Homo sapiens: one gene and its partner. The protein of the gene in region 1 interacts with the protein of each later gene in a pairwise test. Each region holds a gene or a part of one and is shown on either strand. Other genes may lie near its edges. The genes, in order: PLXNB3 and BTBD3.

The links.
Region 2: the proteins of PLXNB3 (region 1) and BTBD3 interact in a two-hybrid assay, tested with the Homo sapiens proteins (one study listed by BioGRID and IntAct).

The regions. Positions count from the first base shown.
Region 1 is NC_000023.11:153,750,477-153,767,248, forward strand, and holds the start of PLXNB3 (plexin-B3 isoform 1 precursor), read left to right. Parts: upstream 1-13,772; 5' UTR 13,773-13,828; intron 13,829-14,994; 5' UTR 14,995-15,059; coding exon 15,060-15,104; intron 15,105-15,682; exon of another isoform or gene 15,683-15,734; coding exon of another isoform or gene 15,735-15,848; intron 15,849-15,906; exon of another isoform or gene 15,907-15,995; intron 15,996-16,396; coding exon 16,397-16,772. UniProt on the Homo sapiens protein: Receptor for SEMA5A that plays a role in axon guidance, invasive growth and cell migration. Stimulates neurite outgrowth and mediates Ca(2+)/Mg(2+)-dependent cell aggregation.
Region 2 is NC_000020.11:11,912,105-11,927,095, reverse strand, and holds BTBD3 (BTB/POZ domain-containing protein 3), read right to left. Parts: upstream 9,204-14,991; 5' UTR 8,821-9,203; coding exon 8,495-8,820; intron 8,011-8,494; coding exon 7,920-8,010; intron 7,379-7,919; coding exon 7,260-7,378; intron 4,463-7,259; coding exon 3,430-4,462; 3' UTR 501-3,429; downstream 1-500. UniProt on the Homo sapiens protein: Acts as a key regulator of dendritic field orientation during development of sensory cortex. Also directs dendrites toward active axon terminals when ectopically expressed.

The DNA of each region.
Region 1 (16,772 bases):
TGGTCCCAAGGAGCCAATGTCCCGCCTCAGCTTGCACAGGGGCTCTAACCTAACCTGCCTTTCCCAGAAACCTGACCCCAGTTGACAAGAGCAGGATGTTGCACCATGATACGTCGTGGGGTCAAAGGCTACCAGGCACCAGGAAAAGAAGCCATTTGAAATACCGCCTCCTTTCACCAACCTGACATCTCCACCTCTGCATTTCAGGAAAAGAAATACATCCAAAAGAATTTTCCCTTCACATTTAATAATTACAAAAATTGTGTTATTTTCCTCAATTACATGCTAGGAAAACTTGTAGGAATTTTGCCATCTCGAATAAATGTTTTAACACTTAGGGGAAAAAAAGTAGTGGGAGGCAGCCAGTGGCAAAGTTGGGTTTGCACAAGAATCGGAGGCACCAGATAACTCAGAAACAATGTGTGTGTATGTGTTGGGGAGTGCAGAACAAGATGATTTATTGGAAGTCTCTATAAGAAGCTGCTGTCCTTGCACTGGCTATGCAGATTAAAAAAAAAGAAGAAGAAAACAAAGAAGATGCTAGATGCCCATATCTCTGCCCCACTTTGTACAGAAGACCAGAGATAGAACAGAAGGTCTGTGGAGATGCAAATTTAAGCCACAGTAAAATACCCTTTTTTTTTTTTGAGACGGAGTCTCACTCTATCACCCAGGCTAGAGTGCAATGGCACAATCTCAGCTCACTGCAACCTCTGCCCCCCAGGTTCAAGCAATTCTCCTGCTTCAGCTTCCCAAGTAGCTGGAATTACAGGTGCACGCCACCACACCTGGCTAATTTTTGTATTTTTAGTAGAGACAGGGTTTTATCACGTTGGTCAGGCTGGTCTCAAACTCCTGACCTCAGGTGACCCACCCACGTTGGCCTCCCAAAGTGCTGAGATTACAGGCATGAGCCCCCGCACCCGGCCCACAGTGAAGTATCTTTTTGCATCCACTGATTGGCAGAAATGTAAAGTCTGACAATACCAAGTGTTAGCAGTACTACAGAGCAGCAGGAACTCACACTTCCCCGGGGCAGGCAAACTGGGACAACCACTTTGGAAAACAGTGAGCATTATTCAGTATAGTTGAAGATGTGCACATTTAGAAGCTAACAATTTCACTCCTAGACACCAGATTGCATGTACAAAATCGCTCACAGCATCATTGTTTATAATGCTTAAAATAATGTTTAAATGTTTTTTAATAGGCAAAAGCCAGAAGCAACCCAAGTGTCCATTAGCAGAAGAACAGATAAAAGATCTATGTTAGAGTCATACAATGAAACAGTATACAGCAATAGAAATGTCCCAGAGTCAGACCATAGAAGTCTAAAAAAATAAATAAATGAATAAACTACGGTTATGTGCATCAACTTGGATGTCTGTCACAAATGTCATGTGGAGTGAAAACAGCAGGTTATAGAAAAATATATCCAGTATGATTCCACTTATAGGGAAGTTAAAAAAAAATAATGCTGCAGGATTTGAACAACACTCTAGACCAGGGGTCCCCAACCCCAGGCCACTGACCAGTACTAGTCTGTGGCCTGTTAGGAACCGGGCTGCAGAGCAGGAGGTGACTGGTGGGCAAGTGAGCATTCCCGCCTGAGCTCCATCTCCTGGCAGATCAGCAGCGGCATCAGATTCTCATAGGAGCACGAACCCTATCATGAACTGCGAATGTGTGGGATCGAGGTTGTGCCTGATGATCTGAGGTGGAACAGTTTCATCCTGAAACCATACCCCCCAACCCTCCATCCATGGAAAAATTATCTTCCACGAAACTGGTCCTTGGTGCCAAAAAGATTGGGGACCACTGCTCTAGAGCAAATGGACCTAGCAGACATACACAGAACATTCCATCCACCAGCAGCAGAATTCGCTTTCTTCTCAGCTGCACATGGGGTAGTCTCCAGGATAGACCATATGTCAGGCCACAAAACAAGTCTTAACAAATTCAAGAAGATCAAATCACATTAAGCATCTTTCCCAACCGCAAACAAGAGATCACTAAGAGAAAGCAAACTGGAAAACTCACAGATTTGTGGAAATACACAACACCCTCCTGAACAACCAATGGGTCAAAGAAGAAATCAAAAGGGAAACAAAAAAAAAAATCTCTTGAGACAAATGAACATGGAAACACAACATACAAAATGCAGTGTGCAGCAAAGCAATTCCGAGAGGGAAGTTTAGAGCCTTAAATGCCTCCATTAAGAAATAAGAAAGAGGCTGGGCATGGTGGCTCACGTCTATAATCCCAGCACATTGGGAGGCCAAGGTTGGTGGGTCACTTGAGGCCAGAAGTTCAAGACCAGCCTGAGCAACATGGCGAAAACCCGTCTCTACTAAAAATACAAAAATTAGTGGGCGTGGTGGCACATGCCTGTAGTCCCAGCTACTTGGGAGGCTGAGGCACGAGAGTCACTGGAAAAAAAAAAAAAAGAAAAAAGAAGTAAGAAAGATCTCAAATAAACAACCTAACTTTACACACCAAGGAACTAGAAAAGGAAGAACAAAATAAGCCCAAAGTCAGCAGAAAGAAGGAAAGAACAAAGATCAAAGCAGAAATACATGAAATAGAGACTAGAAAAATAACAGAAAAGATGAATGAAACTAAGAGTTGGGATTTTTTTAAGATAAAATCAACAAACCTCTAGCTAGACCAACTAAGAAGAGATAAGACTCAAATAAATCAATCAGAAATGAGACATTACAACTGATACCACAGAAATGCAAAGGATTGTAAGAAACTACTATGAATAGGCCGGGCACGGTGGCTCAAGCCTGTAATCCCAGCACTTTGGGAGGCCGAGGCGGGTGGATCATGAAGTCAGGAGATCAAGACCAGCCTGGCTAACACGGTGAAACCCCGTCCCCGCTAAAAATACAAAAAATTAGCCGGGCGTGGTGGCGGGCGCCTGTAGTCCCAGCTACTCGGGAGGCTGAGGCAGGAGAATGGCATGAACCCGGGAGGCAGAGCTTGCAGTGAGCTGAGATCGTGCCACTGCACTCCAGCCTGGGCAACAGAGTGAGACTCCGTCTCAAAAAAAAAAAAAAAAGAAAAAAAAAAAAGAAACTACTATGAATAATTATACTCCAACAAATTGGGTATCCTAGAAAAAATGGATACATTCCTAGGCACATCCAACCTACCAAGACTGACTTAAGAAGAAATAGAAAATCTGAACAGACCAATAATGAGTAAGGAGATTGGACAAGTAATAGAGTCTCTCATCAAAGAAAAGCTCAGGCCTGATGGCTTCATTGGTAAATTCTACCAAACAGTTAAATAACTAATACCTATCCTTCTCAAACTCTTCCAAAAAACTAAAGAGGAGGGAACGCTTCCAAACTCATTTAATAAGGTCAGAAAATTCCCTGATATCAAAGCTGGACAAGAACACTAAAAGAAAAAAAGCTACAGGCCAATATCCCTGATGAACACAGGTGCAAAAATCTTCAACAAAATACTAGCAAACCGAATTCAATAGCACATTAAAAGGCTCATTCACCATGAGCAAGTAGAATTTATCCCTGGGATACAAGGGTGATTGAATATATGCAAACCAATAAATGTGATGCACCACGTTAACAGAATGGAGAATAAAATCATTTCTCAATTGATGCAGAAAAAGCATTTGACAAAATTTAACATTCTTTCATGATGTAAAAAAAAAAAAATTAGCTCTTGGCCAGGTGCAGTGGCTCATGCCTGTAATCCCAGCACTTTGGGATGCCGAGGCAGGAGGATCTCTTGAGCCCAGGAGTTCAGACCAGCCTGGGCAACATAGCAAGACACCTCTACAAAAAAAAATTTTTTTAAATTAACCAATCATGGTGGTGTGTGCCTGTAGTCCCAGCTACTCTGGAGGCTTGAGCCCTGGAGTTCGAGGCTACTGTGAGCCAGGATCATACCACTGCACTCCAGTCTGGGTGACAGAGCAAGACCCTGTCTCAAACAAACAAACAAATACAAATTAGCCAGGTACATTGGTGCGTGCCTGTAGTTCCAGCACTTTGGGAGGCCAAGGCAGGAGGATCACTTGGGCCCAGGAGTTTAAGACCAGCCTGGGCAACATAGGCCCTGTCTCTACCAAAAAAACAAAATTAAAAAGAAACTCTCAACAAATTAGGTATAGAAGGAATATACCTCAACATCATAAAGGCCATATATGACAAGCCCACAGCTAACATCATACTGAATGGTGAAAAGCTGAAAGCTCTTCCTTTAAGATCAGGAGCAAGACAAGGATGCCCACTCTCACCACTTCTACTCAGCATAGTCCTGGAAGGCCTAGCCACAGCAATGAGAAAAGAAAAAAAAAAACATTTAAAAACCCAAATTAGGCCAGGCTCGGTGGCTCACACATATAATCCCAGCACTTTCGGAGGCCGAGGTAGGCAGATCACCTGAGGTCAGGAGTTCGAGACCAGCCTGGCTAACATGGTGAAACCCCATCTCTACTAAAAAGACAGTAATTAGCCAGGTGTGGTGGTGCATGCCTGTAATCCCAGCTACTTGGGAGGCTGAGGCAGGAGAATCACTTGAACTTGAGAGGCTGAGGTTGCAGTGAGCCGAGATCACACTACTGCACTCCAGCCTGGACAACAGAGTGACACTTCGTAAAAAAAAAAAAAAAAAAAAGAGAGAGAGAGAGATTAAATTGTCTCTGTTTGCAGATCACACAATCCTGTATGCAGAAAACCCTAAAGACTCCACCGAAAAATTGTTAGAATTCAGTCAAGGTACAGGATACAAAATCAGCATACAAAACAATAGCTTTTATTTTTTATTTTATTTTTTTTTTTTTGAGACAGAATCTTGCTCTATCACCCCACCTGGAGTACAGTGGCTCAATCACAGTTCACTGCAGCCTTGACCTCCTGGGCTTCTCCCACCTCAGCTTCCTGAGTAGCTGAGACTACAAATGTGCACCATCATGCCTGACTAATTAGTATTAATATTATTGCTATTATTGAGACAGGGTCTTGTTTAGTTGCCTGGGCTGGTCTTGAATTTCTGGGCTCAAGTGATCCTCCTGCCTTGGCCTCTCAAAGTGCTGGAATTACAGGTGTGAGCCATCATGCCTCACCTAGTAGCATTTCTATATGCTATATGCTAACAATGCACTTTCTTTTTTTTTTTTTTTTTTTTGAGACAGAGTCTCTGTTGCCCAGGCTGGAGTGCAGTGGCACTATCTCGGCTCACTGCAAGCTCCGCCTCCCGGGTTCACGCCATTCTCCTGTCTCAGCCTCTCCGAGTAGCTGGGACTACAGGCGCCCGCCACCATGCCCAGCTAATTTTTTGTATTTTTAGTAGAGACAGGGTTTCACCGTGGTCTCGATTCCTGACCTTGTGATCCGCCCACCTCGGCCTCCCAAAGTGCTGGGATTACAAGCGTGAGCCACTGCGCCCAGCCAATGCACTTTCTAAAAAAGAAATCATCAAAGAAGATTTATTTTGTTATCCAAAAAGGAAATCAAGCCAACAATCTCATTTATAATAGCTATAAAAAATAAAATACTTAGGAATAAGTTTAACCAAGGAGGTGAAAGACCTATACACCGAAAACTGTAAACCACAGATGAAAGAAACTGAAGAAAACACAAATAAATGGAAAGATACCCTGTGTTCATGGATTGGGATAGTTAATATTGTTAAAATGTCTATACTACCCAAAGTGATCTACACATTCAATGTAATCCCTATCAATATTCCCATGAGATTTTTCACAGAAATAGAGAAAGCAATTCTAAAATGTATGTTAAACCACAAAAGACCCCAAATAGCCAAAGCAATCTTGAACAAAAAGAACAAAACTGGAAGACTCATGCTATCTGATCTCAAAATATGTTACAAAGCTATAGTAACCAAAACAGCATGGTTCTGGCATAAAAACAGACACATACACCAACGTAACAGAATAGTGAACCCAGAAATAAATCTATGCATTTACAGTTGATTGATCTTCGACAAAGGTGCCAATAATACATGATAGACAAAAGACAGTCTTGTCAATAAATGGTGTTGGGAAAATTGGATATTCACTTGCAGTAGAATGAAATTAGACCCTTATCTCACACAATGCACAAAGATCAACTCAAAACGGACTGAAGATTCAAATGTGAGACCTGAAATTAGAAAACTACTAGAAGAAACTTACGTGAAAAGCTGCTTGGCACTGGTCTGGGCAATAAGTTTTTCAATATGACACCAAAAGCACAGGCAACAAAACAAAAACAGACAAATGAGTTTGCATCAAACTAAAAAGCTTCTGCACAGCAGAGGAAGCAATCAACAGAGTGAAGGAGACAGCCTATGGAATGGAAGAACATAGTTGTAAACCATCCATCTGATACAAGGTTAATACACAGAACACACAAGGAACTCATACAACTCAATAGCAAGCAAATGTATTTTCTAACCCAGTTAAAATAACCCAGTTACACCTACTATGTACTCCTAAAAATTAAAAATTGAAAATTGAAAAAATAAATAACCCAATTTAAATGGGCAAGGACCTGAACAGGCATTTCTCAAAAGAAGACATACAAACGGCCAATAGGTCTATTAAAAAAAAATGCTCAACATCAGCCGGGTGCAGTGCTCACGCCTGTAATCCTAGCACTTTGGGAAGCCGAGGTGAGTGGATCACCTGAGGTCAAGAGTTCAGGACCTGCCTGGCCAACATGGTGAAACCCTGTCTCTACTAAAAATACAAAACTTAGCCAGGTGTGGTGGCATACGCCTGTAATCCCAGCTACTCCAGAGGCTGAGGCAGGAGAATCACTTGAATCCGGGGGGCAGAGGTTGCAGTAAGCCAAGATCGCGCCACTTCACTCCAGCCTGGGCGAAAGAACAAAACTCCATCTTAAAAAAAGAAAAAAATGCTCGACATCACCAATCATCAGGGAAATGCAACTCAAAACCACAATGAGACACCACCTCACTCAAATTAGAATGATCGTTTTCAAAAAGACAAAAGAAAACAAACTTTGGCGAGGGTGTGGAGAAAAGGGAACATTTTGGAACAGTATGGAAAATGGTATGCATGGTGGTTCCTCAAAATATTTAAAGTGAGAATGACCATACAATCCAGCAATCCCATTTCTGGGTATGTATCTAAAGGAAATGAAATCGGTATGTCGAGGCAATATCCACACTCGCATGTCCATTGAAGCACTACTCACAATCGCCAAGATATGGAATCAAACGAAATGCCCACCAACAGATGAATGGATAAAGAAAATGTGGTACAGATACACAATGGATCACTACTCAGCCTTTAAAAAGAAGGCAATCCTGCCATTTGCAACATGGAGGAACCTGGAGGACATTACATTAAGTGAAGTAAGCCGGGCACAGAAAGGCAAATACTGCATGACGCTGCTCACGTGGAAAGTAAAAATGTCAGCCTCATGGAAACAGAGCAGAACAGTGGCCGCCAGGACTGGGGTAGGGGAAATGGGAAAATGCTGGTCAAAGGGTACCAAGTTTCAGTTATGCAGGATGGAGACGTTCCAGAGATCTGATGTACAGCATGGTGATTCTAGTTAACACATTTAAAAAAATAAAACCAAAAAATTTGTTGCAAAAGTAAATAATTTATTGTTTAAGGCTAATTCATATTTGGGACAAGTATAAAGAAAACCAAGGAAAGGCTAGGACTAACTGCGAAGGGAAAAAGAAGGGTCCATGATGGCTGTCAGTGGGGATGATTCATCTAAGCAGCATATGCTCTTCCGTGTGTATTAGATTGAACAAGATGAAACTGCAATTTTTGTAGGTTAACAATAAATGAACATTAAGCAACGTCATCTGGTTTTGACCCAAGACATTTATTAATAATAAATCAATGATAAAATAAAACCAAAACACTTTATGCTAATAAACTTGAAAACTTAAACAAAATGGGCATGTTCCAGCCAGGCGCGGTGGCTCACGCTTGTAATCCCAGCACTTTGGGAGACCGACGCAGGTGGATCACCTGAGGTCAGGAGTTCAAGACCAGCCTGGCCAACACAGTGAAACTCCGTCTCTGCTAAAAATACAAAAATCAGCTGGGCGTGGTAGCGGGCACCTGTAATCCCAGCTACTCGAGAGGCTGAGGCAGGAGGATTGCTTGAACCCAGGAGGCAAAGGTTGCAGTGAGCCAAGATCATGCCACTGCACTCCAGCCCGGGCGACAGAGCTAGATTCTGTCTAAAAAAAAAAAAAAAAAAGCATGTTCCTAGAAAAATATTGTTTATCAAAAATTGACTCAAAATAGAATGATTCATCCTAAATTCAGATAGAATCTCAAGGGGCTCCAAATAACCAAAACAATTCTGAAAAAGGAGAACAAAGTTCGAGGACTCACACTTCCTGATTTACAAAATAAAACATATTACAGTGTGGTCCTGGCATAAAGACAGAGACAGAATATAATCCAGAGCCCAGAAAGAAACTCTCAAGTATATGGTCAGATGATTTTTGACAAGGGTATCAAGGCTACAAATTGGGAAAAGGGCAGTCTTTTCAACAAATGGTATAGGGGAAACTTGATATCCACATGCAAAAGAATAAAGTTGGAGGCTGGGCATGGTGGCTCACACCTGTAATCCCAGTGCTTTGGGAAGCCAAGGTAGGAGGATTGATTGAGTCTGGGAATGGGAGACCAGCCTGGGCAAAGTAACAAGATCCCATCTCTACCAAAAACATTAAAAATTTGAGGCTGAAGCACAAAAATTGCTTGAACCCGGGAGGCAGAGGTTGCAGTGAGCTGAGATCACGCCACTGTACTCCAGCCTGGGTGACAAAGTGAGATCTGTCTCAAAAAAAAAAATTAAATTAAAAATTAGCTGGGCATGGTGGTGAATGCCTATAGTCCCAGCTACCCAGGAGGCTGAGGCAGGAGAATTGCTTGAGACCAGGAGTTTGAGGTTACAATGATTATGCCACTGCACCCCAGCCTGGGCAACAGAGCAAGACCTGTCTCAAAAAAAAAAAAAAAAAAGATGGCAAATTTTGTGTTATGTATTTTTTCCCACAATAAAAAAATTACTCAAGAAGAAACAGAAAACCTAAATGGTCCCATAATTATTACAGAAGTTGGATTCATTGTTTAAAATCTATAGGGGGACAGGCAGGAAGCTACAAAAACAAGGAAGGCCAGGCCAGATGCGGTGGCTCATGCCTGTAATCCCAGCACTTTGTGAGGCCGAGGCAGGCAGATCACCTGAGGTCAGGAGTTCAAGACCAGACTGGCCAACATGGCGAAACACCGTCTCTACTAAAAATACAAAACTTAGCTGGACGTGGTGGTGCATGCCTGCAGTCCCAGCTACTCGGGAGGCTGAGGCAGGAGAATCGCTTGCACCCAGGAGGCAGAGGTTGCAGTAAGCCAAGACTGTACCACTGCACTCCAGCCTGGGCAACAGAGTGAGACTCTGTCTCAAAACAACAACAAAACAAAACAAAACAAAACAAAAAAAACAAAGAAGAGAAAAGAAAAGAAACAAAACAAAAAACAGAAAATAAAAAACAAGGAAGGCCTAGATGGTTTTACAGATGATCTCCAGCAAACATGGAAGTAACTGATCATCTCCATCTTAGACTAACTGTTCCAGTGAACAGCTGAAAAAGGAAATACTGCCTCAACTCACTTTACGATGTCTTGATACCAAAACCAGACGAGGATAATAATACGAGGCTAAAAAAAAAAAAAAAAACCACCCAATCCAGAATTGTATATGAAAAAAATACATCACGCAAAGTTGAGTTTAGTCCAGAAAATACAAGAGTGGTTTAACATTTAAAAATGAATTAATGTAATTTGCCACATTAACAGATTAGAGGAGGAAAACCCTGTGATCATATTAATGCATTCAGAAAAAGCATTTTATAAAAATTCAACATATAGCACACTAGGAATGGGAGGGAGCTTTCTAAATCTGATAAACATATCTACCGAATGCTCCCTGCAAACATCATACTTAATAATGGAACACTGAGAATGCCTCCTATGCTTTTTTTTTTTTTTTTTTTTTTTTTTTGAGACAGAGTTTCGCTTTTGTTGCCCAGGCTGGAGTGCAATGGCTCGATCTTGGCTCACCGCAACCTCGGCCTCCTGGGTTCAAGCGAGTCTCCTGCCTCAGCCTCCCAAGTAGCTGGGATTACAAGCATGGGCCACCATGCTCGGCTAATTTTTTTGTATTTTTAGTAGAGACAGAGTTTCTCCATGTTGGTCAGGCTGGTCTCGAACTCCTGACCTCAGGTGATCCACCCACCTCGGCCTCCCAAAGTGCTGGGATTACAGGCGTGAGCCACCATGCCCAGCGCCTCCTATGCTTTCATTCAAAGGAAGTAAAAGCAAGAGAAAGCAAGTCCAGGGAAGTAAAGCAAGGAAACGAAATCAGCCGGGCACAGTGGCTCACGCCTGTAATCCTAGCACTTTGGGAGGCCAAGGCAGGTGGATCAGGAGTTCCAGATCAGCCTGGCCAACATGGTGAAACCCTGTGTCTGGTAAAGATACAAAAATTAGTCAGGCGTGGTGGTGGGTGCCTGTAGTCCCAGCTTCTTGGGAGGCTGAGGCAGGAGAACTGCTTGAACCAGGGAGGCGGAGGTTGCAGTGAGCCAAGATTGTGCCACTATACTCCAGCCTGGGTGACAGAGCCAGACTCTGCCTCAAAAAAAGAAATCAAAGCTAAAAAGACTGGAATAGAAGAAACAAAATGGTCATTACTTGCAGATGATAGGATTGTGTACGCAGAAAATCAAAAAGAATCCACAAAGAGAACCCAAACATAATTATTAGACTTAATATGAGAGTTTACAAGGTTACTTGATACATAGAAATCCATTGTTTTTCTATGTACCAGCAACACACAGTCTGAATGGGAATTCAAAAGAAGGTAGCCAGGCGCAGTGGCTCACAGGCTCACGGGCCAGCACTTTGGGAAGCCAAGGCGGGAGGGCCGCTTGAGTCCAGGAGTTTGAGACCAGCCTGGGCAACATAGCGAGACCCTGTCTCTACAAAAAAATTACAAAATTAGCCAGGCACTGTGGCGCCTGCCTGTAGTCCCAGGTGTTTGGGAGGCTAAGGTGGGAGGATCACTTGAGCCCAGGAGGCTTCAGTGAGCCATGATTGCGCCAATGCACCCCAGCCTGCACGACAGAGCGAGACCCCGTCTCAAAAAAAGAAATCAGATTGATAAATGCTATGATATTAAAATTAAGACTTTCTGTTTATCACATGATACATCAGCAAACTGAGAAGACAAGTAACAGGTAGGCCGAAGACATACACCCCAGGGATTGGTGTGGAAAATACAGAACACCTGCAAAGTGTAAGCCAAGACATGCACGGGCATTTGACAGAAGAAATGAAAAGTGCTGCAATATGGCCGGTGGTCAAGGAATGCCGATTCAAAACCCAGCAGGGCACCATTTCACACCCACTGTATGCGCAGAAACTCTCAAGTCTGCTCTCTGGTGTACGTGAAGACGTGGTGCAGCAGTGGCAGTGGGGGTGTCCGCTGGGATGCCAGCATGGAGAGCTACGTCTTCAGCCCAGCAAACGTGAAGCCCACGTCCCACTGACCCAACGAGTCCCCTTCCAGCATTGAGAAGCCTGGCACACAGCAAGGAGACGACACCAGATCAGTTGACGCTGCCTTCCCATCCCTTGGTGAGGGGACCCGGCCATTGCAGGATAAATCCAGCACGACTCCCCTGACATAAGATGTTCCGGTTCCCCAAACCAGCCTAGATCCTTTCTGGTTACACCAGCTTCAGACCAGGGGCTGCCATAGCCACGCCTCTTATCTGCTCAGAAAGCGTAGAAGGTGCATATGCAGGCCATATACACACATATTTATGAAAATGGTGCTGCCTGTGGATGGATTTATTTTCTTTTTTCTTTCTTTCTTTTCTTTTTTTTTTAAAGACAGAGTCTTGCACTGTCACCCAGGCTAGAGTGCAATGGCACCATCACGGCTCACTGCAGGCACCAACTCCCAGGCTCAGGCGATCCTCCCACTTCAGCCTCCCAAGTAGCTGGGACTACAGGCTCGCACCACCATGCCTGGCTAATTTTTAAATTTTTTTATAGAGATGGGGGTCTCACTATGTTGCCCATGCTGGTCTAGAACTCCTGGGCCCAAGTGATCCTGCTGCCTTAGGCTCCCAAAGTGCTGGGATTACAGGCGGGAGCCACGACGCCCAGCCTGATTTATTTTCTTCTGTGGAAAGGAAGGAGAAACCCATTCCCCATGCCAGATTGCAGGCGTCTGTCTCATCCGGGGCCAGCAAGGACATGTGTGTGTGTGTTGGGGTAGGCATGGGGGGAAGGACAGGGAGAGGGAGAGAGGCCAGCTGGCTCCCCCAAGCCTCCCCTCCTGGAGCTTCTAAATCCCTCCCTGGCTCCTTCAAGGCTGCCTGGCCTTCCTGTTGGGGAGAGACCCCTCGCCGGCTGCTCACTCGCTTTTTGGTGGTCCTTCCCACGGGCCTGCCTGGTCTGCCTCCACATCCTCAGCGGCTGCAGGTGAGAAGCTGTGGATCTGGGGCCCAGTGGTCCAGAGCGTGGCCCGTGCCAGAATGCCCAGGTTCAAATCCCATCTCTGTGGAATGCACTCTGAAGAAACGACGTCAGGTCATGGCCCTGGGCAAGTTACCCACCTCTGTGCCCCATTTCTCTCCATGCAGGTTGGAAAGAATGACACAGCTGCTCAGGGAAGCACCCATACCCCGAGTCTGCTGGGCCTTTGAGCTCCAGGGCCAACACCTGGCCCTATACCCTGGCCGCCCCCAGGGCTCCAGCCACCTGAGCCAAGCTTCTCACCCCCAGGCCTCCCCAGCCCCATCACCATTTCCTCCTCCCTCATGGGCCCCTCAGTCTTACCGTCCTCCCACTTCCGCCAGCCCCTCTGTGGATGGCCCTGCCACAGGGGGAACAGTGCCCCAGCAGAAAAGCCCCAGGGTCGCCTGGATTCTCCTGCCTTCGCCTCCTGCCCTGGGTCCAACGCACAGTCTTCAGAATGCTGCCTCCCCAGAGCGCCTCTAGAACGCGCCCGCCTCTCTCCATGCCCATGACCACCACTGGACCAGGCCTCCCCACATTCTCTGCCCCAGTGCCACCAGCTTGCAGTTGCCCATGGCGAGACAAGTTCAAGTTCTCAAGCCTGGCCACAAAGACCCCACCTGATTTGCTGACCTCCGCCACACCCTGGGAGACGGCCCTTGACCAACCTTGTGTTCCAGTCGGTGGGAAACACTGGTTTTTCCTCAACGCCACGTGGGCATGTCACGTCCAGGCCTGGCCTGGGGTAGGCCTCAGCTCCATCTCCTGCCCAACGCCTGCCAAGGTTCATGGTTCAAGGTCATGTAGCCTGACGGTTAAGTGAAGGGGCCCTGTGATTGACTCAGCCTTGCCACATACTAGCTGTGTGACTTTATTCAAGTTTCCTAACCTCCTGTGCCTCAGTTTCCCAACCTGTGTTTGTTTCTGGATGGTGCCAGTGCCAAGCCCAAGCCTGGCATCCAGTAGGTGCTTCGTGCCAGGTTATGGAATGCCCACCCAATAGGAGGGCGCTGCCGTCTCTCACCTGCCAGGTGCCCACGGTCAGTACTCCATCATGCCCGCTGCGGCCAGCAGAGGGCAGCAACATCCTGCCCTGTGCCATTGGGCAAAGGGGCGGGCGGAGAGAGGCTGGGCTGCCTGGCCGGGCTTGTTGGGATGAGTCGGACTGGGCACGATTGCATTGTGGGGAGGGAGGCTGGGGCTCTGTGAGACGTGCTCCTGGCACCGCCAGCTGCTACTTGGCCCTCGCCGGTGGCCCACCAGGTAGGCAAGAGCTGGGGCAGGCTTGGGCTTGGGCTTGGGGTGCAGGGGCTACCAGCCTCAGGGCAAGGCATCAGGGTCTCAGGGCCAACTGGCTGGGGTCAGGCAAGAGCGCTCGGGTGTCGGCCCAGCCTGACGACGGCACTAGGTGTCTGGGAGCACGGTGTCCCCCAAGTGGTAGCCCTGGGGTTAGGAGGTGGGGAACCATGTTTCTTCCCCGAAATGGGAAAGCCAACGCCAGCCTCGGGCAGGGTACAGGGTAGAGAGGCTGCCCGCCTGGCTCCCCACCCCCACAGCCACCCAACTGGCCCAGCCAGGTGACAGCAGCCCACTGCCACCTTGCCCTGGAGCCTACTGCTGCCGTGCTGTGGGGGAGGCAGAGACCCCATCCCCAGTGCACCTGCTCCTGTGCCACTGGCCAGGGTGGCCTGTGAGGGTGACAGGGGGTCTAGCTGCTAGGTGCCCCTCCCTTCCCCATCCCCTGCATGGATGGCATCTAGGCCAGCAGGACGGTGCTTCAGAGGGTGGGGTGGACAGCCCCGGCCTGTGGACCCTCTGCCTCAGCCCATCTCAAGCAGCCTCCTCCCGTGGTCCTGCTCGCTGCCACCATGCTGTACCTGGCACCACTTCACCAGTCCCCAGGGGCAGGGCTGGGCTGGGGGTGTGGAGGAAGATCTTTTGGACAAAGGCAGGCATTGAGGGCCAGGACTGGCACTTCACCCAGGCCCCAAGGCTACCAGCCGGCATTTGCAGGGGCTCCAAGGTCCACCCCGTGCCCTTCACAGGGACCCGGGGAGCCAGGGAGGGGCATGCTTAGTGACACAGGGGTTGCAGGGCCAGAGGGGGAGGGCTGGCTGGAGGAAACCCCGGCCCTTTGTCCCCGGATCCCGGGGGTGGCTCCCTGAGGGTGGGAAGTGGCAAGGAGCCCCCTGTCCAGAACAGCCCAGTGGGGGTGACAGCACTAGCGAGTGGGGCCCTGGCCTGGCCTCTGGACAGAGGGAACATTGTTGTGGTGGAGGCAGGGCTGCCTTGGCCTGGCCACTATTGACAAAGCTGCCAGCTGTGAGGGAGCCCGGTCGCTAGGCCCTGGGCGCCACCCCCACCGCCGCCCCTCCTTCCCCAGGCCAGCTCGAATGGGGCTGAGCCTCGACTGTCTCCCTCCCACTCAGGACAATGCCCCCCCGCAGCCATCTCATGCCCATCGCCACTGCCCTGGGGCAGCTGAACTGAGCGTATGTGCCACGCCGCCCAGGAGACCCCTCTGCTGCACCACTTCATGGTAAGTGCCCAGGCCCGGTGTCCCCAGAAATGTTCCTGGGAGGGGCAGGGTAGGGCAGGATGGCTGTGGCCAGGCCCAGGACATACAGGCTGCAGCCTCCCTCATGGCAGACACTGCCCCAGATAGCCCGGGGTCCGCAGGAAGTGTCCGTGCTCTTCCTGCCTGTGTTCCTGAGATAAGCGGCTCCTGGGCCTTCCTCCAGGCGCTGCTCTGCCCTGAGTCGCAGCGGCCCCACTCCTGGTCGGCATGTGACCACACACCCAGGGCAGCATCTCTCTGTGGAGGGCAGGAGGGGCCAGAGAAGGGGCTGCTCCCACCTCTCACCCTCGGGGGCTCACCCCGGGGTCCCACCAGGCACACCCAGGAACCATCTCCAGTCTGGCACCCCTCCCTGCCCCTTCCCTGACCCCTCCCCCAGCCAGCTCTCCTGGTCTGCTCTTCTCCTGGGACACTCCTACACTGAGGCCCCCTGTGCCAGGCCCTGAGAGACCCAAACTGCTGGGGCCCATGGGGCAGGAGCAGGCCTCCCCGCACCCCTGAAGCCTGTGTTGTCTCTTGACACCCCTGGCTTCTCCCAGCACCCCCGCTGCCTTGCCCCAGTGCTTCCTCGCCCTGGAGCTGGGCGCCAGCATGGAGCTCACCCCTGCCTCTTCGCTGACTTGCTCCTTGCTCAGCCCGCGGCTGCCTGGCTCTTTCCCCCAGCTGCGGAGGGTTCCTCCTTGCAGCCGGCCCTGGCTGCCCAAGGCAGGTTTTCTCTCCCTGTCTGGTCCCTTGGGGCACACGGTGGCCTCACTCCTCTCACCTGACTTAGATCTCTCTTGTCTGGGTGGTGGGCGCAGGGGCGCGCTGTGACACAGCTTCCGCCAGCCTTCCAGCTCCCGCGGCCTCCCTCCCTCCCCTGCCCTCTCTCCATCCCTGCCCCCTCTGTGACTCACAGTCCCTCTGTTAGCGCTCTTGCGGCTTTCCAGGACCTGCCCCCCTTCAACAATCTACATGCATATAAAGTAGGAGATGAAAGAATTCTGTCCTTGTGTGCTTGTGCGTGCGTGCATGCACCCCTCCCTGCCTCTTGCTCCAGCTCTTGGACACTGTCTTTGTCCCTCCTTATGTCCCCCTCTCTCTGTGCCCCCTCTGTCTCCTTGTCTCCGCTCACTCTCTCTCATTCTCCATCTCTCTGCCTCCCTCCCTCCCTGGCCCTGAGCACCCTGGCCTCTGTCCACCCCACCTTCCACCTTCCTCTGGTCCTCTATCTGCCTTGCGCTCCCACTGCCCTGACCTGTGCCCTCTCACAGGCCCCCGTGATGGCTCGCTGGCCTCCCTTCGGCCTCTGCCTCCTCCTGCTGCTGCTGTCCCCACCGCCACTGCCCTTGACAGGGGCCCATCGCTTCTCCGCACCTAATACCACTCTCAACCACTTGGCACTGGCACCTGGCCGAGGCACACTCTATGTCGGCGCAGTGAACCGCCTCTTCCAGCTCAGCCCCGAGCTGCAGCTCGAGGCCGTGGCTGTCACTGGCCCTGTAATCGACAGCCCTGACTGCGTGCCCTTCCGTGACCCAGCCGAGTGCCCACAGGCCCAGCTCACTGACAATGCCAACCAGCTGCTGCTGGTGAGCAGCCGCGCCCAGGAGCTGGTGGCCTGCGGGCAGGTGCGGCAGGGCGTGTGTG
Region 2 (14,991 bases), on another chromosome or scaffold:
TATATAAATACTTGATATAAAGAAATATAATGGAAAACTAGTTGAGCACATAAAAACTATATTCAAAATTCTTACGTGCCATTTTTTAAATTCCTAGACTTAAGCTACTGTAACAAAGGAAAAAGCAGCATTGGTCATATCAGAAGCCAGATGTCATTCAGTATCAACACCCCCCTTAGCACAGGAAGATCCAGACATTTGAGCAACTATAGCTTCAGAATACCGGCCAACCACGAATTCCATAATAGAAATATAAATGCATCCATTCATTCCCTCTCATTAACAGTCAGGCTTTGAACAATGCAAGTGATTAACACATTCATTGTTCTGTTATCCTTTTGCCTCAAATTTTTACTTCTTTAGGGATCAAAGATATCTGAACACTTAGCTAACAAATGCCTCTGCGAAACCATCTCTGCAAAACGTAGTGGGCATCAAAAGTGCCAGCATGAATTTTTTACTATCTCAAGGGTGTGACAAAAGCACTAAAGGAAAACAAATCTATGAACTAGTTTTATTTGCATTTAACATGATTATACACATTCATGTGTCTAACAAGATCTGCACTGTTACATTAAAAATACAGTACAATAACATTCAACATGAGGTACTTCATATTTATGTATTTTTTCCTTCATAAATAATGCTGTAAGCTACTAAATTCAAGCACACTGATGCACAAGTGGCTACAGTGTCTTGAATTAGCTGAGCTTATTTAAACACCTTAATAAACAAAAAAGTTCAGTGCAATAATTATGTAGAAATTAGACCATTTACTTAAATACTATTTTAAGATATGCTTAAAGAATGTCACATTAGAACTGCTAGCCTAGTTCCCCTTTATCCCCAGAATGAACAACGACAAAGACTGCCAGCCAGATACGTTGGGGAAAAGCATCTACAGTGTATTCTGCTTAATAAAGTTGTGTTTATAGAATAAAGTTGCCTGCTTTGTTAGAACAATGGTTTCTAGTTTTAAAAGCTACAAAATCCAAGATTACAAAAGTAAATAAAGCAAGCATATTAGCCTTCATTCCATTTCATTGAAAATGCATAAAGGACAATAGGGTTTAAAATGTAAAATTTCTTATTCTAAATACAATTTTCAAATTTTACCCACAGCTCTCGGTACCAGCCAATCAGATGGTAGATATGTTTTAAAGTAATAACAATTAACATAAAATTACATTATTCTATACACAGTGTACAGGATTTCACACGACTTTCACCAGCAGCTCACTAGTCACATGGAGGCAGCTAGCAAACATGGGCACTGACAGTGAGCGTTAGTGAATGAACGCACTGCACCTGAAGACTATCACACCCACCTCAACAATCTGATAGGATGCAATTAAAGTTTCTTCTCTGGCTTACAAACAAGTGCCTTCTTATAAGGTCTACCAATTTGCACAGCAGCTATGAGTTACTGAAATGTGTAACCATAATTTAAAAACCAAATCTTTTGTAGAAGTGTGCTTTTTAATTGAAAATGTACCTTTGTACTTCAATGCTTTGCCAAACTACCTGTAATCTCCCCAATAAGAAATAATTGTACTTTTAGAACGTTGTCCTGGAAATACTCATCTATAATCACCAGTAACAGCTTTTCATCATCTATGCTAATAGATGTAGGTAATGGCAAGAGTGATTAAAACATTTCCAATAATCCAGTGTTCTCCTCCCTCAGGGAAGCCGGCTGAAGGCAACAAGCCCACATCTACAGGGGAAGAAGTGGCCCAGAGGCACAGTGAATACGTCAGGGCAGTCACTCATGGGCCTTGCTGGGGCCAGCAGGAGGACCATTACTGTCCCACCTCTTACTAGCCAGGTAGAGAGGAGACAGCTCCTGAGCTGGCAAACACACTTGCATGCGCATGGGTGCGCAGGCACACACACACCCCAGGACTAACTCCTGGCTCCAGACAAGCCAGTTTCAGGCTTGCAGAGCAGGAGCAGGAGGCGGCCAAGGACCACACTCTGGGTGGCGGCGGGGAAGCCATCTCAGGATCACACTGAGCAGAAAAGCTGCCCAGAAACACATGGATACTTCAACTGGAAGTGAACACACTGGACACTGCCAGGGACACAGGCACTAAACCAGCACAAGCCAGCAGCGAAGGAGAATTTAATAAGTTTTTCCCTCCTTTGTTTACATTATCTGTGGACAAGTAAGGGAGCTAGATGTGATACTGATGCAGTGAATATTAGGTATAATAAAATGTGTCACTCCAGGCCATTTTTTATAAACCCTGCAGGCATATGTTGGCACTTTAAGATGGCCAGGGGCCAGATTCTAGCAGTCTAGGAACAGGACAAAATTAAAATTAACAAAGAATATAGTATACAATCAAAGTGGATCAGGTAAAGTATATTTCAAATTTAAAAAAATGAACAAAGGTATCTCATTACATTAAATGTAGTGCTACAAAACTAGTTGCTACTCCATTTGTATAAAGAATTGTTTGGTCCTCTTTTAATGGGGAAAAAGAAAATAGAAATTCTACACAGTATGACTTATACAAATAAGCAAACAGTGGGGATCAAAAGCTAAGTGGAGAGAAGAGTTTGGCTTTTTCAAACTGCATATTCTTATATGCCATCAATTAAATTATTTGTAGTATGAGTCTTTTTCAGGCTTCCTTTTTAAACTGTCTTAGTTTAAATTAGTAGGAGTTTAACTTTTTTCTACTGACAATAAAATCTAAAAATTTACTTCTAAAAGAAGTATCTGTATTGAAATTTTTTGTCTTCTAAACTAAAAGAAAAGAAATCTGCTTGTAGAAGTCATGGCCTAAACAAATGCCCCCAGTTCCTTATTTTCCAATTTTACATTGATATTCTGAAGTGTTTAATACCTAACTATCTTATGAATTTAGTAATTTTTTAAATCCCAGAAGCAACAAATGTAAAAGGAATAAAACGAGAGCCAAACACAACCACTGTCTACTTTCTAAATTATTACTCATTACAAGGCAAAACTTCTTTCAAAATTGTACACTGAGGTTTATCTGTTTTGGGGGGTAAGAGGAGTTCTGTTTAAAAATAACTCTTGTTATCACTTTATTTCTGTTCATCAAATAACGTCCAAAAGGAAATTCAAGGTGATCCAAAATTATCTTCAGAGGGACAAAACTGAGAGGGTGGTGGAACGCTTGGGAAAGCACATAATCTCCCCAGGTTCATAGATGCAACTCTAAAAACCACAAAGCCTTAATAAGAACGTTAGCTCTTTTAAGCAGATAGTTAAAAGCGGAATGCTGCATTTTTGCCTGTACATAATTAAAAGGTTAAAAGAAATTAGAACCTGCCTACCGCTTCATTCATTACAAATTACCGGCACTGATCACATATTTGCAGATGAGCTAAGCATCAGGCAAGTTGGAACCAGATGTGCACTTTGGAGCTCAAGCTGCTTCAGGAAGTGAGTTTTCAAGCATAGAATATAAGTTCAGGGATCTGCCCTCCCTGTACCCCAGTGCCATTGGTGCTATCTGAGGAGCACTGAAACTGGACAGTCACTTTGCCACACTGAACTTCTGTCATGCCTTCTTGTCCAAAGTAGCTGAGTTCATTGCCATCCAGTATCACACTGGCTGTGTAGAAGGTGTCTGGCTCGATCTGCACTGGGTATTCAAACCATACGGGAAAGGTATTGCTGGACCCATCTGAGAAGTACTTGCTCAAGTTCTGCCCCAGGACAACGCCCTGCCGCTTAAGTTCAATCTTGGCACTGTATTCTGCAGAACCACAGCTGGAGCCATACAGCCCAAAGCCAGCAATGAACACTCTTTTATCAACTGCAAACTGGATGCTGTCACAGCGACCACGATAGCGCCATTGGTTGCTTCGATAGGCACACGACTGGAAACGGTGACAGCGCTGGGGGACAAGGCCCTTACGGGCTTTACTCACAAACTGAAGCTCAGGCTTTTTGGCTGCAGTATACCAGAGGAAGATGTCGTTGGTCTCATTGAGAGTTAATACCCCGGACTGTGCAGCACCATTTGCAAAATCATCGAGGGCCATTGTGGGTATGCGGATCAAGTAAAGTGCCTTTCCTAGAACCTTGCGTTTATTTTCAATGCTCAACGCCAGATCTTGTCGTTGGCATTCTACTTCAGCCCAGTTGAGAGCTGCCTCAAAAACCACAATTTCTTTGGCATTCAGAGTTTCCCTACGGAGAATACTTTCTAGTGTCTGGAAGTCAATATCGCAGAATCCCTCAGACTTGAGAGCTAACTCAGCCTGGGCATCAATCACCTCCCAGCAACGCTGGGTCAGGTCTGGCTCCTCGAACAGGCAGCTCTGGGAGAGGAGCACACAGGCATTCTTGGCACTCAGGCTGGTCTCCAGGAAATTAACACAGGCTCTGGCAAGGTGAGGGACAATGTACTTTTTGGCAGCATAAAGTGTGGCCAGCACTGTGTCAGCAGCCAAGTCAATTTCATCACAATAGATATATCTGTAAAAAGCACATAACATGTAAGTGGAATTTTCACAAAATGAGTACATCCAGCAAGAAAAGATACAACCACTTTCAAGTTTGTTCTGAGAACATCATCTTATGTGACAGTTAATACAAACATATTTGCAGAGTAAAGGAACATTCGAAACATATTAATAAATTATTAATATTTTAACCCAGTAGTAAAGTTTGTATAATTAAAGATATTAACTTTGTGCTACCATTCTAGCCTCTATTTTATAAGCTGCATTCAGTGTCATCTCAACAAAACAGAAGCTATTGAAACTGAAAAACAACTGCATATTGAATAGTCAACATTACAAAAAAATAGCAAAATTCTATTATATATACTACATTATATTTAACCAAGAATAGTCTCGTTATGTTTTAAGAGCAATTATTGCATCTTCATGCTTTTGGAGTTTTCCTAAGCACAAAATAAAACCTGAGATTAATATTTTCCAAATAGTTCCAAGTTCAATGGATTATCAAAAGTATGGACTGCAATGCTATCGTCCAGTTAACTTTACATAGAATCCAACAGACTTTTTATTTGTTTTTGTTTTTTAAACTCAAAACTCTTCCTTCTCCACACATTCCTTCTACCTTCAGAATTCAAGATTACATTATTTCCAGATATATTTAATTAAAAGACAAAGTAGGAAAGCTTAAATATGTATTATTCCTGTGCTTCTGTGAACTGTCCTTATTTCAGGATATAAAACACTTCACAGGATACACTTTTTGGGAGACAGTGGCAGTCTCCCAAAGAGGCACGTAAAGGTAGTCATCATCTGCTTCTCTTCTACCTAAGGTCTACAGCTACTTTATCTTGAGTTTTCCTTTAGTTATTGTATTTCACCTTAGTGAAACACATAAAACTTAAGAAATTAGCAACAGCTTCTATAAGAAAGTAAAACACAAGAATGGCAATGAGAAAAATGTCCACGAGCACAAATGAAACCTGCCTTTTTGCTCACAGGAACCTTTCTCTTCTCTGATAGGCGAAGTCACCTACTGATGGCAAGGCCACTTGATAGTACACCTGCGGCTCAGTGATGCTCTGACTGTGAGCCAGGACCCTGGGGAGGATCCTAGAGCATGGTCAGCACTTTCGAGCTCTTACCCTGGAACTGTCAAGGGAGCAGCTGTCCTCTTTTTCTGACAACCCCAGGAATACTGGCTACTCATACTCGATGAAGCAGGCCACCGCTTTCACAACTACAGCACTAGAGCAAATGGCACCTGACTCATTTCTGATCTTACCACATTTTGTGGACTGCATGTATAATTTTATAAAGCTTTATCAATATCTGCTATAGGCAATGCATCTGTGGGAAAAGATACTTGTCAAATGATTCATCAAATGACTTAGGTGAGATGTAATTCTCTGCCATTCTTGTTCATGTTTCCTAATTATGTATATATCAGGAATGATACAACATCCTACTTGACTGCAGTGAAGACAAAATGCTGAACTAGTGCTAGCAATCTCCTCAGCAACAGAAAACACTATAAAAAATACAAAGCTGACTTCATGCAGTGGGGATACTTGCAGGTAAAACTGGTTTCTGTACATATATCTCCAAAAGATTACAAAGGTTAAAAGTAGCAGATTAGTTTACATTTTGGTACTTCACATGCTCACTTGCCTTTAATTTCCCTATCCCCTACTGTGAAGGTCTTGTCAGTGACAATTATATTTCAAAACTGTAAGATGAATAATGAATTAAATACTTTTAAGTTCTAGAACTAACTACAGTACTTATTTTTCAGAAGACAGTAAACAATGTATGGCAACATTTTAACTATATGTAGGAGTACTGTCCAACTTGTTGACCCACTGAATACTTTTTTCAACAAACATTTTACTTATTCCAATGAACTGAAATCCCTAGAGCAACAGATAACCTTAAAGTAATACACTTTGCTGTGCTAGAATAAAGATTAGGAAAAATCATATAAATACTACTTAGAATAATAATTAGATTATGATCACTTGGTGAACTACCACACTGTCTAGTACCGTACATGATAAAGAAGCTGATTCTATAACCTGTTTAACACATACTGGTGCCTGCAGAAGACCCACCAGACAGAAAACTATCTTTTTTATAAATATATAACGTATCTTTAAGTTTCATACTTCTGTATTACCAATGAAAGTTCTTCTGTATAAATCCACATGAAACTGTACGAGACTATCCATATCTTTCTAAGATTTCCCCTGTAATGTCAAATGCAAGTACTTTTTACCCTTGAGAGTGTCTGATTTTATATGAGTATGTATATGTATGTGTACACAAAGATCAGATTATTTCAACAGATGGTAAGTTTTTCATTTGCTCTTAGGAGACAATAACTCTTAGAATACTCAGAAATCTCCCAACTGGTGTTACTTAAATAAGGTACTTAACTTCTGAAATTGTGAAGCAAAAACATTTGTTTAAAGACTTTTTCACACACAATGCTTTCAGAGAGAACATCTTCTATTAAATAATGCTAATACCAGAAAGTTATTTGTCTTTAATTTTAAGTTGTTAAAAATCATCACTATACATGCCACTTGCTCCCAAATTCTACGTCAAGGTGCGATTATAAATGCTGCATAATTCCATATGCTTTCCACGGAAAGCTAAAGTGTTCTTTTCCGAAAACATTTACAAGGTAAGCAGCACCCTCTTTCTTCATCAGTCTTCTTTTCTGTTATGCAGAACTTAAATTTAACTGTGAAACCAGCAGGGTACAAATACAGCATAAACAAACTCTTTCCAAACACACGAATGATGCTTACTTCAGCATAGCGAGAAAAGCAGCAGGTTCGACATCTGGTATACGGATTTCATCTTTGTCCTCTGCAAGTTCTCCGTAAAACATCGCATGGAACACAGAGCTCCCAACAGCTAAAACATACTGTGTAGAAAGGGAAATCTTATTTCATACACTAAATTGAAGGCATTTCCAGCAAATCAATGCAGAAAAACAACACTAGGCAATCAGGTTTAGTAAACATAGCGTACCTAAAATCTACTGCTTTGAAAAAGCCAAGGTACACAGGGTAGCTTGCCATGGAAGCATAAGACCATGCTGCTAATTATTTCAAAGCTTTAAGAGATTAATGCACATGTCCCCTCATTACTAAATACATACAATAATAGCTTACATAACTAATTTCTAGGAGAAGGGTAAACATACGACTTTCCTGACCTGTCACAACAACTTCCCATGTCTGGAGAGTTAAGAGGGGATGTGTGAGATATAAAGCAGTATAGAAGGAAACAAAGAAAAAATTAAGCGTGGCCAAAGCCCTCTGGAGAGGGTGCGCTCTCTCCCTAATCGAGTGAAACATGCACTGCCTGACATCGGCAAGCTGCCCACACCAAGTTACAGGCTTATGGAAAGGGTCCCTCTTTGTAAACGTCAGGACTAAACCGGTCATGCAGCTGTTGCTTACTTTGTGTCCTGGCAACCGTTGAGTCCCACCTGGTGGCCCAACCACAAAATGTACATCTGCCATCAAATCATTATTGAACATCATCGCATTTCTATAAACAGAGGCAACTCATTAATTCACAGCAGCCTGCATTTTTAACATCCCCTTCCCCAACATACAAAACCCACAAAAGACTTGCAAGCTAAGCAACAGTCCAGTAACTTCAAGGCAAAACAACAAATAAAGGTTCTAACTAAACTGTTCATAATCATTGCAAACATAAGGGAAGTAACTAAAGTTTAAAATAAAAGTTATACAAACTTTTAATAAAGCTAAGGACAAATAAAAGGTTCCCATTTTCTATGGCCCATAGACAACCCTGTCACTTGAATGTTACAGCTTGCAAAAACATTTTTATCTAAGAGGAAAACAGCTGTACTGTTTTGGAAAAGATACAAGGCAATTTTCCATTACCAATAAAAAGCTTCTGGGAAAAGAGGAAACAGATTTGTGTTCAAATACATTACAGGTTTTGCAAAAGCAGAAACTTCAACACAGGAAAACTTTTAAAGTAAATAGACTAGCGCGGCACTTACCTCTCTCTAATGGTGGGATAAAGACCCTGCCAGTTTGGGGCCGGGATAAGGTTGTTGTTACTGAGATTCTGCTGGTGGTACTGCTGGACGCTGGTGCTGCTGGAGTTGGCTGGCTTTTTACGGGGGAATATATCAGCAGCCATCTTCTTCTTTTTAGTCTTCAAGGTAATTATTTCATAACAAACTGGTGGCAACTTGCTGCTGTTGCTACTGCTGCTGCTGGTATTTGCTTTCTTTGAGCTTTTCTTGGACCTGTTCTTTACCGTCTCTGGAAGCATCAAGAAGAAGGTGAGACATTTCATGTTCTTTTCCTTGTCATCTACCATGAGTACAGTGTGTCTCTCTTTAGAGTTAGATATCCCAAATTGGTTTGAACATCAAGGAAAAGAGATTAGCCCGGGCTAAGAGGTTAACTGAAACCAACAAAGCTGATATTTTGCTGCTTTTCTCAGCCAGGCAAGGTGACCTTTTCACTATGTTGAATAGAAACTGGCTTTAAGTTTTATCCAGTACTGGGTCTGTTAAATATATCCCCATCATGATTCCTGTTTCTCTTATTTGCTCATAAAAATAACTGTTTCCTAGATCACCTGAAAATGCTACACTGCAAAGATGACAGGCACAGAGCTGTAGCACTTCTTTTCTGAATTAGGTCAGCAAGATGGGCTGGAGCTGCGTGAGTCTGTTCAGCCGGCTGAAGTTGTGTGGTGAATGGATCGGAGGAGAGTAGGTATTACAGCCCTGCAGATGGAGTCAGACAGCCAGTGCTCCGAGCCAATAGCTGAAGTCACCAATCATGATTGGACCAAGCAAAACAGTGACACCTATTGTAACATGCATAGTTCTGATATTAAAGGAACAGCAGTTGCATTTTCTTGTCTACTGTATATTTAAACAAGATAATAACATATGAAATATATTTGACAACAGGAAGGGAGGAGTTTATGCCCACAGATTTCTCTTCAGTAGACATACATTATGTCCCCAGTTAAGCAGGATCAATTAACAAAGGGTAGGGACAGATATCTATATTTCTACTAAAATCTTTTTCCCAGCAGCATTTAGTTTCAAATACTTAAAACAAAATCCTCCAGTCTATAAACTGAAAAGGGCTATTAATAGCAAAACACATTTATTACACTTTAAAGGCAAAGGACGTTATTTTTCTTTTTCTTAGCCTCTTTTGAGTGCAAGTCATAGTCTAGTGCTAAAGAAGAGAACTGAGGCCATGTGTTCAGTTTACCTCCCAATGTTTTCTAGCTTCTATAATGGTCTTTGACAGGTGTCTCAGGTCACAAAATACTGTTAATTAGATTAAGATTATACCCGTACACCTAAGTACACTAAAGCATAAGATAAACTCTAGAAGTAAAAATAAGATTCAAATAAAAACAAATCTGATGATCAATGTTCAAAGGCTGTAATTCACTAAAAATATTTCAGATGGGGCCATGTTCAGGATCTCAAAATTCAACTTAACTGTTAAGGCTACATTTAGTCTTGTCTTAATTTTAAAGAATATAATCCACAACTTCTAAGACAGAACAAATAACAAGGCTATTCAAAATGATAAATGTTCGGATTCCACCTAGTTAAAATGCAAACAGGTTCTCTCTGCTTTGAATTAGAAGAATATAAGCTACCATTTGATTTTTGTAGGTGTGAATCCTCCAACCATTTCTAGCGTTGGTGAGTAAAAAAAACAAAAACACCGGCAATAGGTTCTGCATATGCTTATTTATTGTAAAGAGGGACTAATTAAAATATTTAATCTCACCCCTATCTATTTGGATCACGCTCATTTGTTCAAAGCACAGCAGCCATTTGCTACCCCTCAGGCAAATGCACCCTTCATGACCACAGCCCTCCTTGTTTTAACATTTGTCTGAATAATGACTACCTGACACAGTGAGGGCTCAGCAAATAAGAGTTACGATTGTTATTGTTATAATTAATAATCTGCTAAAGGCGGTTACCAGAAATCAGTCTTTAAATCCCTAGAACACTAAATTGAACCAAGAAATATCCTCTTTATTGTTGTTATTATTATTCTTAAAACCATTTGCAAAGCCTCTGTAAGAGAACCAGGGCCTGTAGCACAGTTACCTGTCTCCATTTTAGATGGATCCTGAAGCACTGCTTATTTATTATGATTATCATGTTCTCAACAGCAGAACACACACATACAGATACCTCCAAATCATCTTCATACACACTTTAACACACAATGTTAGAGAGGGATCTAGAAACCAGTTTAAAAAGCACATAGAGAAAGTCATGAAGAAACAAGTAAGCTCCTATTGACCTAATTATTCAGAATAGGGTTAACACTAAAGGATTTCTCTCTTGCTCAAGTGCCACTGAACTTCCTTGACCACTTCCTTGCAGGAAAGCTCCCATGCCAGGTAGGCCTTTCTGACTGGGATTAATCTCATAAATATTTCTAACAAATCTAGTATCTGGCTTTTCAGGTCAGAAGTAATCAATTAGAATGGAAAGGGAAACCAGCTGCTTTTAGGCAGACATACTATTAATTGGTAGCTGGATGGAGACAAAATAGAAAAAACATAAAACACAGATACAAGAACTTAGAAGGGTTTGTGATCTTTACTCATTTTGCATATGGCTCAATACCCATCACCAAGAAGTCTCCAAAACACATGGCTCTTACACCACTAAGTTAAAGAAAAAAAGTAAAGTGGATGTAACAGTTTGAGAAAGAGAAGTATGCAATATTGTAGAACATGTTTTCTAAAATTACAGATATCAGTTATTTAGAAAAATAAGTTTTGTAGAAAATTCTGACAATACTAGTTAAATGAAGTAGCGCTAAATCTGAATCATCTACAAGAGTGCTACAAAGAAGGGCATTATTACTCCAATGTATGTAAGGACTGATGAGCATGGCTGTTTAAAATCAAGACAGAAAAATTATCTGACGGCTACTTTTTCTTACCACGGTAATAAGGCAAGTAATGCAGGTTCTTGCTACTGAAAATGTAGTTGAAGGATCAGCAGCAGCATCTACAGGGAGCCTATTAGTCACCCAGAATCTCAGCCAGACTCTGGATCAGAATCTGCATTTCATACAGTATTCAAGGTTGAAAAAAACTTCACATAGATAACTACTGACTACTAGATGTCTTCCCAATGATCCAGTACCAACATCTGGTGCCATATGTTGCATTCAACTATTAAGTGAATTGAAAATAACTCAAAATAATTTAATTTAGTTTGGACATTAAAAACTTAACAACCCCTCACATCTTGTTCTGAAATTCTTCTGATTAGGCCCCAAATGTCAAATTCTAGGATTGAGGTGTGCAGACAGCCAACTGAGAGGGACCAAGATATTCTCTGGAAAGGAAGCGCCAGCCCCAATTATTTTAAAAGATAATGACAGTGATGATTTCGGCAGGAAAAATAAGGAATTAAAAAATGTCAACTATGAAGCAGATAATCACTTAGTACTTTTAAATGGTCTACTTCACAATTGTATTTCAACAAATTAGCAATGTAGCATGGTAAAATTAGCAACCAATCTAGTTCAGTCCTGGCTGGGCCACTTAAAATAGAGAAAGGCGAGTATTTGAACAAATCATTTAGCCTTTAAGGGCCTCAGTTTTCCTCAGCTATAAGATGAAAGAGATTCACCCAGAATGAATGTTTTTCAAACTTTACACTCAATCCACAGTAAGAAATGCATTTTATATTCTGACTTAGTACTAAACATAAACACACATACAGGCATACAAATGGAAAGACATGGCTCAAAAAACAAAACCTACTCTTAGCATGTTATGATATACACTCTGATATTTTCTATTTTCTTCTTTCTTCTTTTCTTTTCAATGTTGGTCATAATCCATTCAACTGATCTCATGACCACAGTTTAAGAAACACTGGTCTAGGTTATTTCTAAGGGCATTTAAGGTTTAACACACTAGGTTCTTTTCTTTTTTTTTTATTTTATTATTATTATACTTTAAGTTTTAGTGTACATGTGCACAATGTGCAGGTTAGTTACATATGTATACATGAACATACTAGGTTATTTTCTATCAAGAATTCAGACTAGGGACCACCAGATGATGGCAAGTTCATGAAACTCCTCAAGCTGTCGGTGAAATTGGCAGTATGTGTGCATTTATTTTTCTAGAAAGAGAAGCCATGGCTTTCATCTGCCATGAGTAATTGCAACCCAAAATACAATAAAATGTTAGGGTTAAAATGTTATAAAACTATAAGATTGATTTGAATATACAAAATTTTGGTATCACTTTATTCTTTCATTTCTATAGTCTACTACATTAAATACAAATTATGGCTTCTTTTCCTCCTTGATTAAACATAAATAGTTAAAACTCCATCTGTTGAGTCTGTAACCCAGAAACATCACCCACTGGGTTGAAGGGTAAAAAAGGATAGCAGCCTGATGTCTACTGCTACATTTTACTCCTAAAATTTCTTTCCAATAGGCATTTTATCACTTGTTTCTACACTTCCTGAATTTTAGAGCTGTCTGCCCTAATGAGGTAAATAGGCCAAGAAGTCCATCAAGTTTGTATGAAAGTATTCCCAAAATAAAACATACTGACTATGCAGTGTATTAGGTGTTGGGCATACGGCGGTGAGCAAGACTAGAAACCAAACTTAAAAAGTTAGCTAATAATAGTGTGTTTCAGTTGATTTTATAATTGCCAGAAAGCTGAATCACTGTTAACCTATTTCCATTCAATTCCCAATAATAACAAAATTATCCACAGAATTTAAGCTCACTTAGATCATCCTTTTCACCACTGGAAGGTTTGTCAGCAATCCTACCTTTATTTAATACAATCTGACATATTCACTTTGCAGACCTGAATGAGGTTTGAAACTGAACGGGACTCCAGAAATCATTTAATGCAACTCTTTTTTCACAGGTATGGCAACTGGTGTCAGAAGTATAAGGGGTTTGTGAAAATTCCACAGTAAAGAAGTGGGGCAACACCTGGACTACGAGGCGGATCTCCTGGCTTGTCATGTTGTTTGCTTCATTCACTCTAATATTCACTCACAGTAATTACCTCACACACTTACAGAATGCTCAATTGTCATATTTCTAATCTACTTTAAAAGAAGAGCTTTCTTTTAAAGTTTACAAAGATGAAAACCATGAACATATGTAGTCTGCACCCCTGTAGGGGCACACTACAGGCAAGAATGCTGAAAGGATACTTGTGGAATGAGATGGAAGGAAGGAACTGCAGTGAGGACGCTGCTCAAAAACAGAAGAGGCTCTCCAGGTAAAATAAAGTTAGAAACCAGCTATTCACGGTTAACACCAACTTCTATGTCAACAACTAATAATGCTGGCAACTCTTGTTTAACTTGCTCTAACTCTGGACTCCTTGTCTGGACTTGTACATGGTTTACTACAAGGCCGCTAAAAAGCAACAGCAGTGAGGTTAACAGAGGTTTAAACAAGGTAAGGTAGACTGAAGAAATACCTATCACTTCCAAAAATGATTAACATAACCTAACAGAGGAGAGTAGTTTAATCTGGTAAGTTATGAGGGAATAGTGTTTTGTTTTTGCTTATTTGTCCCTTCAATACTGAGCAAAAATTATGCTTTTGATTTGGGAGGTAAAAAGATAAGCAACAAAATGTTGGCAGTCCCCAAAGTCAGCAGAAGCTGCTGGAAAACAGACTATATATGCTTTCTAAATTTGGAAATAAATATGGAGTCAAGCGCTGGAAGCATAGCATAGCTAAAAAAGCAAGAGCTAACAACAAGTGACCTTAAGGTCAGTATTTGTGAGCCTCATTTTCCACATCTGCCAAATGGGGTAATTAGACCCAGCTTCTCCCTCAGGTTTATTGTGAAGGCAAGATTATATGTTTTGTGAAAGCACTTTAGTTAAAAACAGTCTACAAAGGTAAGTTCTCACCATTAGCAGCAATTGTGCCCAAAGCAGGAAACGTTTGTGATGCAATCATCTAAAACACAAAATCTCAAAGATTAATCTAGCTCCTCATCCTTGTACTCTTTTCAGACTGCACAGCTACTGACATTTCATCCTATCTGCAGGCTTCCTCTAGCCCCACCTATGGGCCAAGCAGGTCCCATTTTGCTGTGAATCTGATTTTGCAGGGAAGGTTCAATAATAAGCAAGATTTGTGCTGTGCACTGTGATCCGGTCCACACCCAATGTCCAAATCCCACAGTGTTATTTCCAAACCTGCACTTGAACCCACACTTCAGGCTGGGTGCCCATTGTGGACTTCAAACCTCCATGAGGCCACCTGTTGGCTGATTCACTGCTGTGCCCACTTCCTGAGACAGCCTCCTGCAAGGAGCCCATCTAGCCACCCAGCCATATCTCACTAGCAACTCAATTTGGCCTCTCTCGACAATGACCCAGTTTGAATTCCAGCACCAAGGTTGATAACTAAGGCCAAGTATTTGGCCAAGGCATACCTCAGTGCTGTCCACAGTATAAGGTTCATGGTC